2 separate regions of the Homo sapiens genome follow, and region 1 is linked to region 2. The links come from fine-mapping of genetic effects on gene expression. A gene starts in region 2. The other region holds a variant in brackets. All regions are shown on one strand. Distances are from middle to middle.

What was found. PIP is the estimated chance that this variant, and not a neighbour inherited with it, causes the effect.
Region 1: its variant is fine-mapped to the expression of PTGDR in whole blood (TOPMed, PIP above 0.99).

What each region holds. Positions count from the first base shown.
Region 1 is chr14:52,189,585-52,197,925 of GRCh38, reverse strand. No RefSeq gene overlaps it. Among named protein-coding and RNA genes, the nearest start is that of LINC02319, 68 kb to the right of the region's middle. The variant A/C (reference allele first, on the strand shown) is at 4,351.
Region 2 is chr14:52,262,552-52,270,849 of GRCh38, reverse strand. It overlaps PTGDR (prostaglandin D2 receptor), which reads right to left and starts at 3,152. Exons shown (of 2, transcript NM_000953.3): 1 at 2,190-3,152. The coding sequence starts at 3,035.

The DNA of each region.
Region 1 (8,341 bases), 73 kb after region 2:
CTGCTCTGTGAATCCCCTGTGCTCTGCCTATTCATCCCTCCCCATTACCCCCTTCTTAATACCTGGCAATCAGTGGTCCTTTTACTGTTTTGCCTTTTCCAGAATGTCATATAGTTGGACTCATACAGTATGTAGCCTTTTCAGATCGACTTCTTTCATTTAGCAATATGCATTTAAGCTTCCTACTTGTCTTTTTTGTACCTTGATAGCCCATTTCTTTTTATCATTAAATAATATTCCATTGTTTGGAGGTACCACAGTTTATCTTTTCACCTATTGAAGGGCATCTTGTTTGTTTCCAAGTTTTGCCAATTGTGAATAAAGATGCAATAAACATTGATGTGTAGGTTTTTCTGTGTACAAATGTTTTCAACTCCTTTGGGTAAATACCAAGGAGCACAATTACTGGCTAACAGTATAGGAGTATATTAGGCTGTTCTCATGCTGCTATAAAGAACTGCCTGAGACTGGGTAATTTATAAAGGAAAGAGGTTTAATTGACTCATAGTTCTGCATGGCTGGGGAGGCCTCAGAAAACTTAGAATCATGGCAGAAGGGGAAGCAAATACATCCTTCTTCACATGGTGGCAGGAAGGAGAAGTGCTAAGCAAAGGGGAAAAGCCCCTTATAAAACCATGGATCTCATGAGAACTCACTATCATGAGAACAGCATGGGGGTAGTCACCCCCATGATTCAGTTACCTCCTATTGGGTCCCTCCCATGACATGTAGGGGTTATGGGAAGTAAAATTCAAGATGAGTTTTGGTTGGGGACACAGACAAACCATATCATTCTACTCTGACCCCTCCCAAATCTCATGTCCTCACTTTTCAAAACACAATCATGCTTTTCCAAAATCCCCCAAAGTCTTAGCTCATTCCAGCATTAACCCAAAAGTCCAAGTCCAAAGTCTCATCTGAGACAAGGCAAGTCTCTTTCACCTAGGAGGAGCCTGTAAAATCGAAAGCAAGTTAGTTACTTCCTAGACAAAATGGGAGTATGGGAATTGGGTAAATATACCCATTCCAAATGGGAGAAATTGGTCAAAGCAAAGGAGCTACAGGCCCCTGCAAGTCCAAAACCCAATAGGGCAGTCATTAAACCTTCAAGTTCCAAAATGATCTCCTTTGACTCCATGACTCACATCCAGGTCACACTGAAGCAAGAGGTGGGCTCCTATGGCCTTGGATACCTCCACCCTGTGGCTTTGCAGGGTACAGCCCTCCTCCTGGCTGCTTTCATGGCTGGTGTTGAGTGTCTGTGGCTTTTCCAGGTACATAGTGCAAGCTGTCAGTTGATCTACCATTCTGGGGTCTGAAGGACAGTGGCCCTCTTCTCACAGCTCCACTATGCAGTGCCCCAGTGGGGACTCTGTGTGGGGGCGCCAAACCCATATTTCCCTTTGCCCTAGCAGAGGTTCTCCATGAGGGCTCCTCCCCTGCAGAAAACTTCTGCCTGGACATCCAGGTGTTTCCATACATTTTCTGAAATCTAGGCAGAGGTTCCCCAACCTCAGTTCTTGACTTCTGTGCACTCAGAGGCCCAGCACCACATGCAAGCAGCCAAGGCTTGAGCTTGCACCCTCTGAAGCAATGGCTTGAGCTGTACCTTGGCCCCTTTTAGCCACAGCTGGAACTAAAGCAGCTGGGATGCAGGGCACCATGTCCTGAGGCTGCACAGAGCATGGGGGCCCATGAAACCATTTTTCCCTCCTAGGGATCCACATCTGTGACGGGAGGGGCTGGGGTGAAGTTCTCTGACATGCCCCAGAGACATTTGCCCCATTGTCTTGGTGATTAACATTTGGCTCCTTGTTACTTATGCAAATTTCTACAGTGGGCTTGAATTTTTCCCCAGAAAATGGGCTTTTCTTTTTCATCACCTCATCAGGCTGCAAATTTTCAAACTTGTATGTTCTGCTTCCTCTTGAATGCTTTGCTGCTTAGAAATTTTTTCTACTATATACCCTAAATCATCTCTCTCAAGTTCAAAATTTCACAGATCTCTAGGACAGGGGCAAAATGCCGCCAGTCTCTTTCTTAAAGCAAAGCAAATGTAACCTTTGCTCCAGTTACCAAGAAGTTCCTCATCTCCATCTGCTACTACCTCAGGCTGGACTTAATTGTCAATATCGCTATCAGCATTTTGGTCAAAACCATTCAACAAGTCTCTAGGAAGGTCCAAACTTTCCCACATGTTCCTGTCTTCTGAGATCTCTAAGTCTCTAGGAAGTTCCAAACTTTCTCACATTTTCTTGTTGTCTTCTGAACCCTCCAAATTGTTTCAGTCTCTGCCTGTGACCCCATTCCAAAGTCACTTTGGAATTTTTTGGTTATCCTTTTAGCAGTGCCTCACTCCCTCGGTACCAATTTAGTGTATTACTAAATTGCCTAAGAACTGCCTAAGACTAGGTAAGTTATAAAGGAAAGAGGTTTAATTGACTCCAAGTTCCACAGGGCTAGGAAGCCTCAGGAGACTTAGAATCATGGTGAAAGGAGAGGCAAAATGTTCTTCTTCACATGGTAGCAGGAAGGAGAAGTGTTGTGCAAAGGGGAAAAGCTGCTTATAAAACCATCAGATCTCATGAGAACTCGCTCACTATCATGAGAAAAACATGGGGGTAACCACCACCATGATTCAGTTACCTCTCACTGGGTCCCTCTCACAACATGTGGGGATTATGGAAACTACAATTCAAGATGAGATTTGGGTGGGGACACAGCCAAACCATATCAAAGAGTATGTTTAGTTTGGTAAGAAACTTCCAAACATTCTTCCAAAGTTGCTATACAATTTGGCATTCCCATTAGTAATGAGTAAAAGTTCCTGCTTTTGAGCCAGGTGCAGTGGCTCATACCTGTCTTCAGCCACACTCAGGATATGTACAGTATGTTTGTTACAAAATATATTTTTTATAAAAGCTTAAGGGAAATGAGGAGAATTCATCATTTATTTCTTGTGCTCTATTTGTTTGGTGGTCTTCCAAATAGATAACCACTTTTTAGGAATCTGGAAGAGGAAGTTCTTGATTCAATGGGAGTCCTAATTAAATAACTCTCCATTGTCTTCTGATTCAAAGATGCTATAATGATTTAGACTTGATGAATAATTGTACTAGTTAATCCTACTTCCTCCCATCCTATTCCACAACATCTTCATCTGTAAACACTTGTCTTGTATATTAATACTCTTACCACTGCCAGGTTGGCTTTGAACCAAATTCAGCTGCTCTATCTTCTTTGCATCAACTCTCCTGAGGTCATGAAGCAGAGTAGCCTTCATGGGACCCTCTGGACTCCCAGCTCAGTGGGATCAATCTCAGGGCAACCTCGTAAAACCTCCGTTCCCAGTAACTTGAGCTTCATTAGTCTGTCAGTCAGGCAAAACTATGCTTTACTATGGGGCAATGACAATTAGGAGTTCAGCCTTCACTAAATACAAATTTGGAGCAAAAACATACTGATGTCAGTGATGAGAAAGAAGATTTACTAACAGTTCCCAAATGCGCAAGGCAAATTATGAAATCTGCCGTAGTCCCAAATTTCAGAGGTCTTCCAGTTCCTTTGTAGTTGGTGGCCCTGTGGAGAGATAGCCAATGCTGTTCATTTACCACTGGAGTCAAAGAAAAATAAAACCATTACTCTCAGGAAAAGGCCTCACCATATCTAAACTAATTTTAGAAGGAATGCATACTATTTTTTCCTTCAAAGACATTTATGGCATTTACTATATATAAATGTCAATATAGATAGCAATCTAGGTTTGAAATATAGCCACACATTGCTTGATGATGTTTCTGTTAACAAGGAACCATATGTATGGTGGTCATCCTGTAAGAAAATAATACCATATTTTTACTGTACCTTCTTTATGTTTATATATACAAATACTTACCATTGTGTTACCATTGGCTACAGTATTCAGTATGGCCACATGCTGTACAGTTTGTAGCCTAATAATAACAATCAGATTGAGAGAGAAAAGAAATTTTTATCTGAGGAATATGAGCCCCTTTTAAATTATCAGGCCCAGAGAGACATTAAAATGTGACAGCAGTCTCATCTCACTCACCCTTTGAGCTAAATAATTACCTCTTGAAGACTTCGCTATGTGGGTGCTAGACTATCTGATGCCATGTAGCCATGAAATGCCACATGTCAGAAGCTGAAACTCATACTCTGTAGTTCAACAATGTGTAGCAAGTTACTAATCGATGTTATTTCTGTAAACCAGTGAGAATTCCTATTCAAACAGTTTTCTATCAGCTCACTCCTTGTGCCCTTTTGCCTTTTAAAAACCAGCTTGTAAGGAGGGCTGAAATGAGCACTTCCCAGAGTTTCTGGGGCTGC[A/C]GTCCTCAACCTTGGCCCAAATAAACTCTCAATATTAATTTTGCCTCAGTTTCCTTTTTTTGTCATCAGGCTATATTGTATAACCTAGGGTGTAGCAAGATATACCATCCAGACTTGTGTAAGTATACCCTATGATGTTTGCACAATGAAGAAAATTGCTAATGATGCATTTCTTAGAATGTATCCATGTTGTTAAGTTATGCATGACTGTAGTTGTATCTTTTTTCCCTTAATTTGGAAAAAAATACCTTCTAAATTTTGAAACCCTTACCTAAAATCCCTTTATAGGCTCAAAATTCCCTTAATATTTACAATGAAGTGAATTATTTTCCCCTTTCTTTTGGAAAACAAATGAGATTAGCAACTTTTAACCATTTACTTTTTTTAAATTTGCTAACCACATGCAGATCTATGTGCACCTTTCCCAGAAAACAAATTATACATATTGTAACAAGAAGAGAAAACCAAATGCTTGTGAAGTCCTTATGAGATAGGTTGCTTTTTCCTGATGTAGTTTTAGAGAACGCCTGCCCATTGAAGCCAGCCTCAAGTGAGTTAGCTGATGGAGTGCAAATGTCATCTCTCTGACAAAACTTTCTCCAACCCACGTAAGCCATTCCCCAATCATAACTATTTGCTTGGTCTGTGTCCTGGTGCTTTATTTTTTATCTCTATTTTTAATCACAGTATTTAATGATATTTTTCCTTCACCAAAAATAAATGTGAGTTATGTAATATGTTGGGGTGCCCAGCACACTAGTGCAAACCCTAGTGTTTTTCAAAAGAACAAATGAATGGAGTGATATTTTGTCACCTTTGAAACTTTTTCTTATGGAAACGTTCAAACTTACACAAAAAATAGAGAAAGCAGTATAACAACCCCCCATATTATGCAACAACTGACTTTACACTTCTCACACCCCACTAGATTATTTTAAGTAAAACCCGGATATATCATTTCTTTCATTAAGACGCCAGTATATGTCTCAGTGGAGGCAAGGATCTCTTTTGTTTAATATAACCACAATGTGATTTTCCTAAAACTAAATATATGAAAACATATTCTTAATTTCCTCAATATCTATTAGACTTAATATCATCATTCAAATTTCCAAATTGTCTCATTAATGTCTTTTTATAATTGGTTGGTTTGAATCAGGATCCAAACAAGGTTCACACAGTGCATTTTGTTGTTAGAGTTCCTAAAATTTCTTTTAATCTGTAACAGTGCCCCCTGCAAGTCGTTTGTCCTGTAAACTCATCCGAATTCTGGATTTGTGATTTAGGTTCATAGATGGTGCCATGTAGTGCCTGTTGCATGGCAGTAGGAAGAACATAATGCATTGTCTTTGTCTTTGAGATGTTAAGATTGATCCGTAGATCTGAGAGTTGTTAGGCTAATTTATTCATCATAGTGTTCCAAACCAACCTTTCACCTACTAAGTGGTAATATTCATTATTTCATTAGGTATTATAAATGGGTAATGTTTTAATTAGGAGTTATTAATGGGTAATATTTTAATCATTTTTAATTAATTCTTTCTGCATGTATTACTGGAATTTAGTCATAAAGGAAAGACAGAATAAACGCTTGCTTCTATCCTTTTATTTATCACTTCATATTAATGAGTTAGTGTTCTAACAATTTCCGAAGGTGACCATCAAATTTTTTTTTTTTTGAGTTGGAGTCTCGCTCTGTCACCCAGGCTGGAGTGCAGTGGTGTGATCTCAGCTCACTGCAACCTCTGCCTCCCTGGTTCAAGCGATTCTCTTGCCTCAGCCTCCCAAGTAGCTGGGATTACAGGCGTGCACCACCATGCGCAACTACTATCAATTTTAATGTATCTATGTGTGTATATATATGTGTGTGTGTATGTGTGTATATATATGTATACACACAAACATATACATACATATATATAGATAGATCATCATAGACTTATGGATTCCAACATGATGCTTTTCAAATCTACCTCAAATTATTTTTGATGCTCAAATTGGGCCATTTTTAATCAGTAGGACACTTTTCAATTTGTCTTCAATATTCTTTGATTGTTTTCTTTCTTTCCAACGTGATAAGATGTTCCAGCTTCTTGTGCCTTTCTACCTCAGACTCAGAATCTGACGTTTACCCAAAGAGTTCTGACTCCTTTTAGTGAGGAATGATATTGACAGTGCTAATTGTTCTTATTTCAATGGGTTGATTGTTGCCTCTAGGCCTTTTCAGTGGACAGAGATGGGATAAAAATTATGACTTCATTTTCCTTTTGTTTCTTTTTTTTTTTTTGAGACGGAGTCCTGCTCTGCCACCCAGGCTGGAGTGCAGCGGCACGATCTCGGCTCACTGCAACCTCCGCCTCCTGGGTTCAAGCAATTCTCCTGCCTCAGCCTCCCAAGTAGCTGAGACTATAGGCATGTGCCACCACGCCCAGCTGATTTTTGTATTTTTAGTAGAGACAAGGTTTCACCATATTGGCCAGGCTGGTCTCGAACTCCTGACCTTGTGATCTGCTCCCCCCTCCTCCCAAAGTGCTGGGATTACAGGTGTGAGCCACCGCTCCCAGCCCATTTTGCATTTTTAAATGGAAAAAAAGAACATGATTTGGCCAGTGTCTTGGTCTTAGATGCTGCTGGATGAAATTAATGGTTAAGATAAAGTGTTTGCTTTATACTTGATTACGCTAAACAAAAAAGATAAAGTGCTCACTAAAGTACAGGAATATCTGAGATATTATGGGTTCAGTTCTAGACCACCACAATAAAGCAAATATTGCAATAAAATGAGTCACATGAAATTTCTGCTTTCTTAGTGCATGTAAAAGTTATGTTGACACTATACTGTAGTCCATTAAGTGTGCAATAGTATTATATCTTAAACCAATGGACATACCTTAATTTAAAATATTTTATTGCTAAAAAACACTAACAATCACCTGAGCCTTCAGTGAGTCATAATCTTCTTGCTGGTGGAGGGTTTTGCCTCCATGTTGATGGCTGCTGACTAATCAGGGTGCAACTCTCCCTTTCACGTGAATACTCAGAGGCCGTTGTTGGGTTATTAATTGGCCTAACTGCAATATTCTTGTGTCTCAGGGACTAGGGAGGCTGGAGGAGAGAGAGAGAGATAGAATGGTTAGTCAGTGGGGAAGTCAGATCACACACATTTATCGATTAAGTTCAGGTGCAGTTAATGAGCCCCAACACATCTACAATAGTAAATCAAAGATAACTGATCATAGATCACCATAACAGAGATAATAAAAATGAAAAAGTTTGAAATGTTGTGAGAATTACCAATAAGTGACACAGACTTACAAAGTGAGCACATGCTGTTGGAAAAAATGGCCCTGATAGACTTGCTTGGTGCATAATTGCCACGAACCTTCAATTTGTAAAAAATCCAGTATCTGTGAAACACAATAAAACAAAGTATGCCTGTATACATTCAGTCATTTGGAAAGAAATCAGAGACCAGGAGATATCACAGAATAAGTGGAGTGAGATCTTATAAAATATAGATTAATTAGTGGTACTAAATAAGCCATTGCTAAAATAAGAAGTAGGAAACTAGAAAATCTAAACAGACAGCACAGTGTCCAGCATATGATATTAACTCACTAAATTATTAGAGTTTATGTTTTATAGAAACTCATATTAATTAACAATGAGGCATATTCTCCAATAAATATTATCTTTGTAAGCTGCTTGCATTTCTTCCCTTTTTCCTGGATAACAAGATCTAGGTTGGAACTCTTTAACATCTTGACCCTGCTAGAGTTTTCAAGTGGAAAGTGAAGCCTTATTTTGCACAAATGTTTGGTATGTGAGCATGCACAGTGTGAGGTGCAAAGCCTTCTTAATACTCAAAGAAATAACAACTTTAGGTAGTTGCAACCAAAATGCTAAACACATGTAATAAAAATACGCATGTGCACGTCTTATCTTCGACAGTCTGCATTATATCTCATGCTTTCCCTTAATGTGTGTGACT
Region 2 (8,298 bases):
TGTTCTTTCCACTGTATGATGCTGCTTTCTGCATTGGTCTGACTAAAACATTCAAACTCAGGTCAAAATTTCCATGCATTTGGCTACTGTCTACTTTGTCACAGCATAGATAAGTGAGGCCCCAACTTTACAATAGGAGCTCCTAAAGATTGTATAAAGGACCAGATAGTAACTATTTTAGGTTTTATGGCCAAGAGACAAAATCATAAATATTTGATAGGTACTAATATAACATGGGAGAAAACACATTTCCACAATTTTTTGATGGAATTCAAAATGTATTAATAATTGAGTACAATTTTTTTTTTAGATGGAGTCTTGCTCTGTCGCCCAGGCTGGAGTGCAGTGACACAGTCTTGGCTCACTGCAACCTCTGCCTCCCAGGTTCAAGCGATTCTCCTGCCTCAGCCTCCTGAGAAGCTGGGACTACAAGTGCATGCCACCACGCCCAGGTAATTTTTGTATTTTTAGAGACGGGGTTTCACCATGTTGGCCAGGATGGTCTCGATCTCTTGACCTCATGATCTGCCCGCCTCGGCCTCCCAAAGTGCTGTGATTACAGGCGTGAGTCACCGCTCCCGGCTGAGTACAATTTTTTTGTAATATGTATCTACTAAGGAGAAGAATAAAACGTTTTCTTGGAACAGTATTTTTCTTGAAATAGTATTTGGCTCAATTGAAGCTCAAAACTCTTGGGTCTCATCAAATTGATTGCAGAGATTCATTTGTAAGAATTATTCTTAACTCCAGGGAGATGTAAAACAGTGGCCAGGAAAGATTTGGCCTGTGAGCTGTGGTTTGCTAACTCCTGTTTTAGAGTGTGATTCTACAAATGTGAACCCTGAATCTGAGCTTGCATATCACCTGGGAACTTGTTAAGAATGAAAATTCTTTAAAAATGTCTGAATTAGAAACTCTGGGGAATGGGGTCCAGCCATCTTTTTTTCTAGAAGCCTTGCTGGTGATTCTGAGCTGGTGATTCTGAAGACCACTGCTATATGTCATCTGCGCCTATATCTACATTTAGATAGATATAGATTTATGTATTTGTTTATTTATTTTGGGGGCATACTGTTCCCACCCCTGCATGCTGATGCCCCAGACTTCTTTTTCCGCAAGCAGTAAGGCCTTCATTTAAAGGAAAATCGCTTTGTATTTCCCTTTCATTCACCATTGAAAGTAATATCCAAAATGGCTACATTCTGAGAAGAAATTTAACAACTTTCCTATTCACAGAAGTCTCAGGATTTCGAGAACGTGGGATTGGCAATGGAATTTCTGTAAGTATTGTTTTTGTTGAACAGGTACCTTGGGAGAAAGGAGAGGAGCAGCACTGAAAATGTTTCCTCAAGCCTCACCTACTCCCAGGTGTCTTGGCGGGGACTCCAGGAACAAATGCCTTCAAAATGAGGAGATAATTTCATTTCCATCGCTATCCTCATTACCAAATTGAAACCGGAGATAATGGCTTTCATGTCACCTCACTTGCCAAGATACACTCAAAACCCGTCAAGTCAGGTTGTCAAAACGACACCAGCAGCTAAAACATACAAAGAGCCTCGGCCTCCATCGCCACAATCCCTGGCGGATGCAGCACCAGAAACAGCAGCCGTGGCGTCTCAAAGTTTACGCACGCGTTTTTCAAAATTAAAACTATGCATCTGCAAATCACTCTGGCTGGCTTAAACCTCTTTTTCCCTTTCTATGCCAACACCGGGGAGAAGATCGTCCCAGACGCCATTCGCCCATTTCTGATACCACTGAAGTCATGAGCAGGTCTAACAAAATAAAACATCACCCAGCCGTCGGGAAGTAGAAGACTCCTGTTGCCAAGGAGAAACTAAGTTCTGCTCCTCCTAAGGCGCAAAAATGACCTCGAGATCTCCCCAGAAGGAAGCAGAGAGGAGGGAGTTCTGCCACATGGAGAGGGTTTTGCTGGGCTAGGGAGACACCGCCGGGCTCAGCCTTTCCCTTCCTTTCTCTAACTTTCCCTCATTTCGCTCCGCAAACTGAGTTATATCTCGGGGCTGTGGAAGGAATCCAATTTGGGGAACTCAGCAGCAAACCTTCCTGGCCCAGGGCGCAGCTCGCCTGGCGCCGCGTCCATCCCGATCCGCTCCACCCTTCCCGCCCCGCATCCGCGGCCGGACAGTCTCAGTGCCCTGCTGCCTCGGGGCCCGGGGACTCACAATTACGGGCAGAGAACACATAGTGAAGAGCACGGTCATCAGCGCCAGCAGCAGGAGGTGATCCAGCTCCTCCAGGGGCTGAGGGGACGCTTCCCTCCCGTCCGCGCGCGGCTCGGCACAGTCCCTGGTGCAGGAGCGCGGGTGCCGCTGCAGCCGCCGGTGCATCGCATAGAGGTTGCGCATGGCGCCGAGGTTGCACAGCACGGTGGCGAGGACCAGCAGCGCCATGAGGCTGGAGTAGAGCACAGAGTACCCCAGCACCGACAGCGAGCCCTCCTCGTGGACCATCTGGATAAAGCACCAGGTGCCGGGGCAGTACTGCACGAACTTCCCGAAGCCCATGAAAGGTAGCGCGCAGAAAGCCAGGGAGAAGGCGCTCACCACCGGGGCCACCAGTGCGCCCAGGCGCAGGGTGATGTGCCGTCGGTAGAAGAAAGGGTGCCCTAGGGAGAGCCAGCACTCCAGTGCCATGGCCAGGAGTTGCAGTGTCGAGGAGAGCCCAAAGAAGGACATGAAGAAGGCGAAGGCTTGGCACAACGAGTTGTCCAATGCGGGCGCAAGCACCCGCAGACTCCGGTTCTGAGCGTAGGCAGCCAGCACCACCGGGCTTAGGAGGCACTTGCCCAGCAAGTCGGTGACCGTCAGGCCACACACCAGCATGTAGAAGACCGAGGGCAGCGGGCGCAGTGGACGCCGCGAGCACCACCCCAGCCCCGAGCGCGCCAGCAGCCCCAGGGCCAGCAGGTTGCCCAGGAGGCCGGTGCTGAAGAGCACCCCGCCCATCACCGCCGAGTTGCCTTTTTCCACAGAGGTGGTGTTCTGGCAGCGGTAGAACGGCGACTTCATGGCGTGCGGGAGCAGAGGGCTGGAGTGAAGGCTGCGGAAGGGCGAGGGCCCCGGCGCCCGGGTGCTAAGGAGCCCCCGGCAGCTCCGCGCGCGGCTCGGGCGGAGAAGCTGCGCCACAGAAAAAGCTCCGAGGGCGGCGGGGTGTTCCCCACGGCAGGAACCTCCTATCTAAACTCGCGGGTCACACCCCTCTTTGAGAGGCGGGACGCTCTGCAGGGTGAGCGCCTGGCGCTGGCATTGAAGAGCGCGGAGCAGGCCAGTGAAGAGCTCGGCCCTGACGCGCTGCGTTCTCAGTAGAGACAGACTCTGGTGCCGAGTCGGAACGGCAGGAGGAAAATAGCCAGAATTCCAAGCACCCAACACCAGTCCTTCTAGCGAGGCAAGAGAAGAACTACTAAAGTGGAGGGGAAATTAAGCAGCAGCCACCTGAGAGGAGGGCAATGGTGCTGGTGTTTGAACTGGGGTGGCCAAGAACTCGAAAGATGAGCGAAGAGGGGAGGCTGAGAAAGGGCTTCTACCTAGTTGTCTTGAATTAGCTAGTCAAGGAAAGGTAAAGATAACTCACGTCTGGAAAGCCCCTGAGCCTTAGCTCCTCTTCTCTACTAGATCAGCGCAATTTGGGGCATTCACGGTCATCTCCATTGCATAGGCGAGGAAACTGAGGCCTTGGAAAGTTAAGTGATCTGCCCGTGGTGACAGAGCTACAGAAGTAGCAGAGCCGGACCTCTCACCCGATCTTCTATTTTGGAGTTCATCTGTCCTGTTCCCATGACTCCTCCTCCCAAGAAGTTGTCCAGATTTCAGGGAAGTGGTTTGTGGGAAAGCCAAGAGCCGGTGTTGGTCCTGGGTGCCATGAATCACATTGACTGTAGAGAGCTGGGGGGAAGGGCATGGTTAGCAGCACTGTTGCTGTCATCAGATAGGCCTGGGTTTGAGTCCAGGTTCTGCTCCTCACTGTGTGTGTGACCTTATGGGACTTGCTTAGCCTCTCAAGCAGTAACATCTATCTGGCCTGCTTGGCTCTTCTGAGGCATAGAAATAACACGTAAAGAGCAAGTACATAGAAAGTGCTCAATTCATGCAATCACCATGATTCTTATTTGATAGAAGGGTGTTTTGGTAGCTGATGTTTAACTGCAGTTTTTAGCATGGATTTTGAAATCAGAAAATGGTAGATTTGGCATAGAGCTTTCTCACTCCTCTGATTTGTGGCTACTAGAAAAAATTTATTCCTGTTTGGGCTTTGACTTGGCTGCATCATAAAGGCAAGGGAGTTAATTGTGATAAGCGTGATTTTATATCTTTAACTAGCATTCGATGCCCTGTGAGAGAAATTGGCTTTGAGTGTGGAATCTCAGTGGGATGACTAAGGTTTTGTTATGTAAGTGAGTAGATGATGCCTGGGCTTGAAACGGCTCATTTTTAGGCCTCATGCCAGTTCTGATGGACAGACTCAGGGAAAGAGCAAGACCCTTGGGATTTAGATGTGAAAGCCTGAAGGGTAGACAGAGAGGCTGCCTCCAGACTGAAAGTCTGGCCAGTAATTCAGGCCACAGGGTGGAAAAGAAGAATCTAAGCTTGGAATTAGATAGTTCTGAACTCCACCACTGGCTGTGTGACCCTGGGTTAGTTGTTCAACCTAATGGAATATGAGACTTATGCTGAACTTGTGGGGTTGTTGTGAGGTTGAGAAAACTTGAAGTGCTTTGGCATAGTGTAATAATAATAATAAGAGCTAATATTTATTGGTCCTGATGCAGGTTGGACACTCTCTAAGCCTTTCACTTATATTGACTCAATAGAAGGCCTTGTATAGAGTTAGTTCCCTTGTCTTCTACCTACTCTCTCTCATTCCCATCTCTAGCCCCTAGCACATAAGAATGGGTTTAGAAGAGCCCCACTCGACTTAATGAAGTGAAAGGAAGAGCAGGCCCCATAACCAAAAGACATGAGAATTTGATGAAAGCTGTGGTCTCCTCCATAGACAGACAGACACACACACACACACAGGCACACACACACAGACACACACGCAGACACACACACACACACTTTACATCAATCTCAGGCTGTTCACCATTTCCTGAAGCCCTTCTATGGTACCCAGAGGAGACCCAATGGACACTAGCTTAAGAATCCTTCCTCTAAAAATATTGCATGGGTTGTTCTTCTGAAGCATACCTACTTCAATTCTTTGCAGCTTTATTTTCATGCTACAGTGGCTTACAACTCCGTATTTATCCTAGGAACCCTAAGATTACAAATACCTTTTAAAGAAAACAACCCCAAAGTGTGACTGTTGGGCCAGCTGTGGGTCCTTGATAAGGTTTACATACATCATGCTTTAAGGTTGAAGGTTTTGAACAAGTGCAATTCAGGAAACCACACGTTTCCTCTCAGCCACTGTAGCTGGCCTTTACGATGGGGTTTCCGGTTGCCTTTCCTGATTGCTTTGCTGGTGTCCACCCTACCCTGTTCTCAGGCCTAACTTTGGAGTCTTCTGTCCCAGTTCCCGAGAAATTCTATTTTGTAATTTCACCATACAACCAAGAAAAGTATCATTTGTTCATGCGTCAAATAGTTTTTGCGCTCCTACTCTGTGCCAAGCATGGGGGTGAGGGGATGAAGCATGTGGGCACTGAGGGGCATACAACAGATAAGGAAAGGCAAACATCATGTCGTGTGACCTCTACAGGCTTATACATTTTTATATCAGCTTTCAGAGTAACCAGGCTAAGTACATTTTTTCCTTAAAAGGGAAACCTTTAATGAAAATATCTTAGGCTAAGTTAGTGGTAAAATTACCTCCATTATCTACAGAGCTGTACCAGGCTGCTTAATTGGGTTATAGGACAAATCTTCTGAAAATATATGACATCATGTGGATGACTATTTTAAATATATAATTATATTATGGCAATATAAACATAAAAATCATAGATTCTCATGGACAAGGCTCAGAAGCTGACATAGGCAAATGAAAACATTCACTTAGACTTGAGAAGGGATGGCAGAAAAATATCTCCTTGGTTTCTGATATTTTCAATGTTGTATATGTAATAATTATTTTAAAAGACTTTAAATGTAAAACAAGTGATATGGTTTGGTTCTGTCCCCACCCAAGTCTCATCTTGAATGTAGCTCCTATAATTCCCATGTGGTCATGGGAGGGAACTGATGAAATGTAATTAATCATGGGGGCAGGTCTTTCCCATGCTGTTCTGTGATAGTGAATAAGTCTCACAACATCTGATGGTTTTATAAAGGAGAGTTCCCCTACACAAGTTCTCTCTTGCCTGCTGCCATGTAAGACGTGACTGCTCCTCATCCACCTTCTGCCATTATTGTGAGGCCTCCCCAGCCATGTGGAACTGTGAGTCAGTTGGACCTCTTTCCTTTATAAATTACCCAGTCTCAGGTATGTCTTTATTAGCAGCATGAGAACAGACTAATACAAGAAATGTATGCTTATGGTGGGGATCTAGGAAGGGGAAAAGAAGGAAAAAGGAACATTTATTTTTTTCTGGATCCATTCTAACTATGCTTCTAAATCTTATCCATTGCTCACTTCTACTGAACTCCAAGTGATATTTTGGGCTGGGGCTTGTGAAGAGCAAGGAATGGAGAGGAGGGATGCTAACAAATGATAAACAAACTTAGCTCTCAAATTTGGAGCATGTTCTGCATGCTAGAGACCATGCTAGATGTTCGTTCACATTCAGGACCTGGAGTGGTAGCATAGAAGTGTGGCCATGATGTGTTAGGTCCTGGGAGTCATACTGTGTGAACTTAAATCTCAGCTTTGCCCCTTGCTAGCTGTGTACCCTTGCATAATCTTCTAACCTTTCTAAACCTCAATCCGCTTGTCTGTAGAAAGGAGGGAAGGAGGGTGAAGGGGGATAATTGGACTGAACTCTTAGGGTAGTATCTGGCTTAAATGAAATAATCTGCATAGAACAATAGTTAGCAATCTTGGCTGCACTTTGGAATCACCTGGAGAGCTTTAAACCTTTGTGATGCTTCAGCACCCCAAATTGATGATATCAGACTCTTTGGGGTTGCCCTCCAGGCTTCAGTATCTTTTTTGAAGCTCCCCAGTTAATTCCTGTGTGCAGCTCAGGTGAGAATGTTAAGCACTGTGCTGTGGCATGCTCTGCGTGGCTCCGTAAGTGATGTTCATTAATGTTTTTATTCCTGCCAACTGCACTGCAGAAGTTTTCTTTATCTCTCTTTTCTTGGATAAGGAAAATGAGACTCAGAGAGGTTAATAACTTGTTTAAGTTCACACAACTGGTATGTGATGAGTCTAGAATTGGCATCCAGGTCTTTTGGATTCCCCAAGCCTCTGCCTTGGAGAAAGAGAATTGCAGAGAAGACCAGAGAGTGAGAGAGAAAGGAGAGATCCTGCCACTTCCTCTATCTGCTCAGAAGTCAAGAGGCAGAACTACCACCAGGGACAGACCATGTGTCAGTGCCCTGTGTTTTTGGGGTCACACAATGTCTTGTGGTGGTCTGCCCAAATATTTTGGCATCTGTTTGCTATTTGCAGGTAGTTTAATAAAATCTTCATGTTTGTTTGATTCTTATTCCTGCTTTTCAGGCTTCCCCAACCTTTTGCCTAGCAAGAATTTCCATTTTGATCTTTGGCTTCTGTCCATGTGTAAATCAGGATCAGGATCTCTGTATGTGTAGGAATTTGAGAAAATACGCTTTCAAAAGATCAGCATGAATTTTTTGAAAACGTCTTTGGGTGATGACCTGAGAGTAAATAAATGGTGGTATAATCCATTTGTAACCTGATGACAGGTTGTGAGGGTTCACTGATTACTGAGCTTTTCTAGCAGCTTGCATAAGCTTCCAAGGGAAGTTGTTGGCAGCTATGGCTGGTTTGGTTGCCTGAGAAAAGCAGACTCTGAGATGGAGATGAGGATAGGATATGTAGCGTATTTATTAGGAAGTGCTTTTGAGATTGACACCTGTGAAAAAGAAGGAACAGAAACAGGATTGAGTAGAGAAATTGGGTTGTGATAGTTCCAATGACAGACCTTAACTAACCTGACTGGAAACTCAGAAGCTGACAAGGCCCCTCAAAGTTGTCTCACTTGAAGGTAAGGATACTAGGCTTTTGTATCCCTGAATGGGCCAGTGACTGGGGGCAGGTTGCCCTGGGGAAGGGCATAGAGCCTTGGGTGCTGCAGCTCTCTCAGCCAAGGCAATACATGGAGGGGGCTGATGGCTGAGGACTGTGCCACAGCGCGGGGAA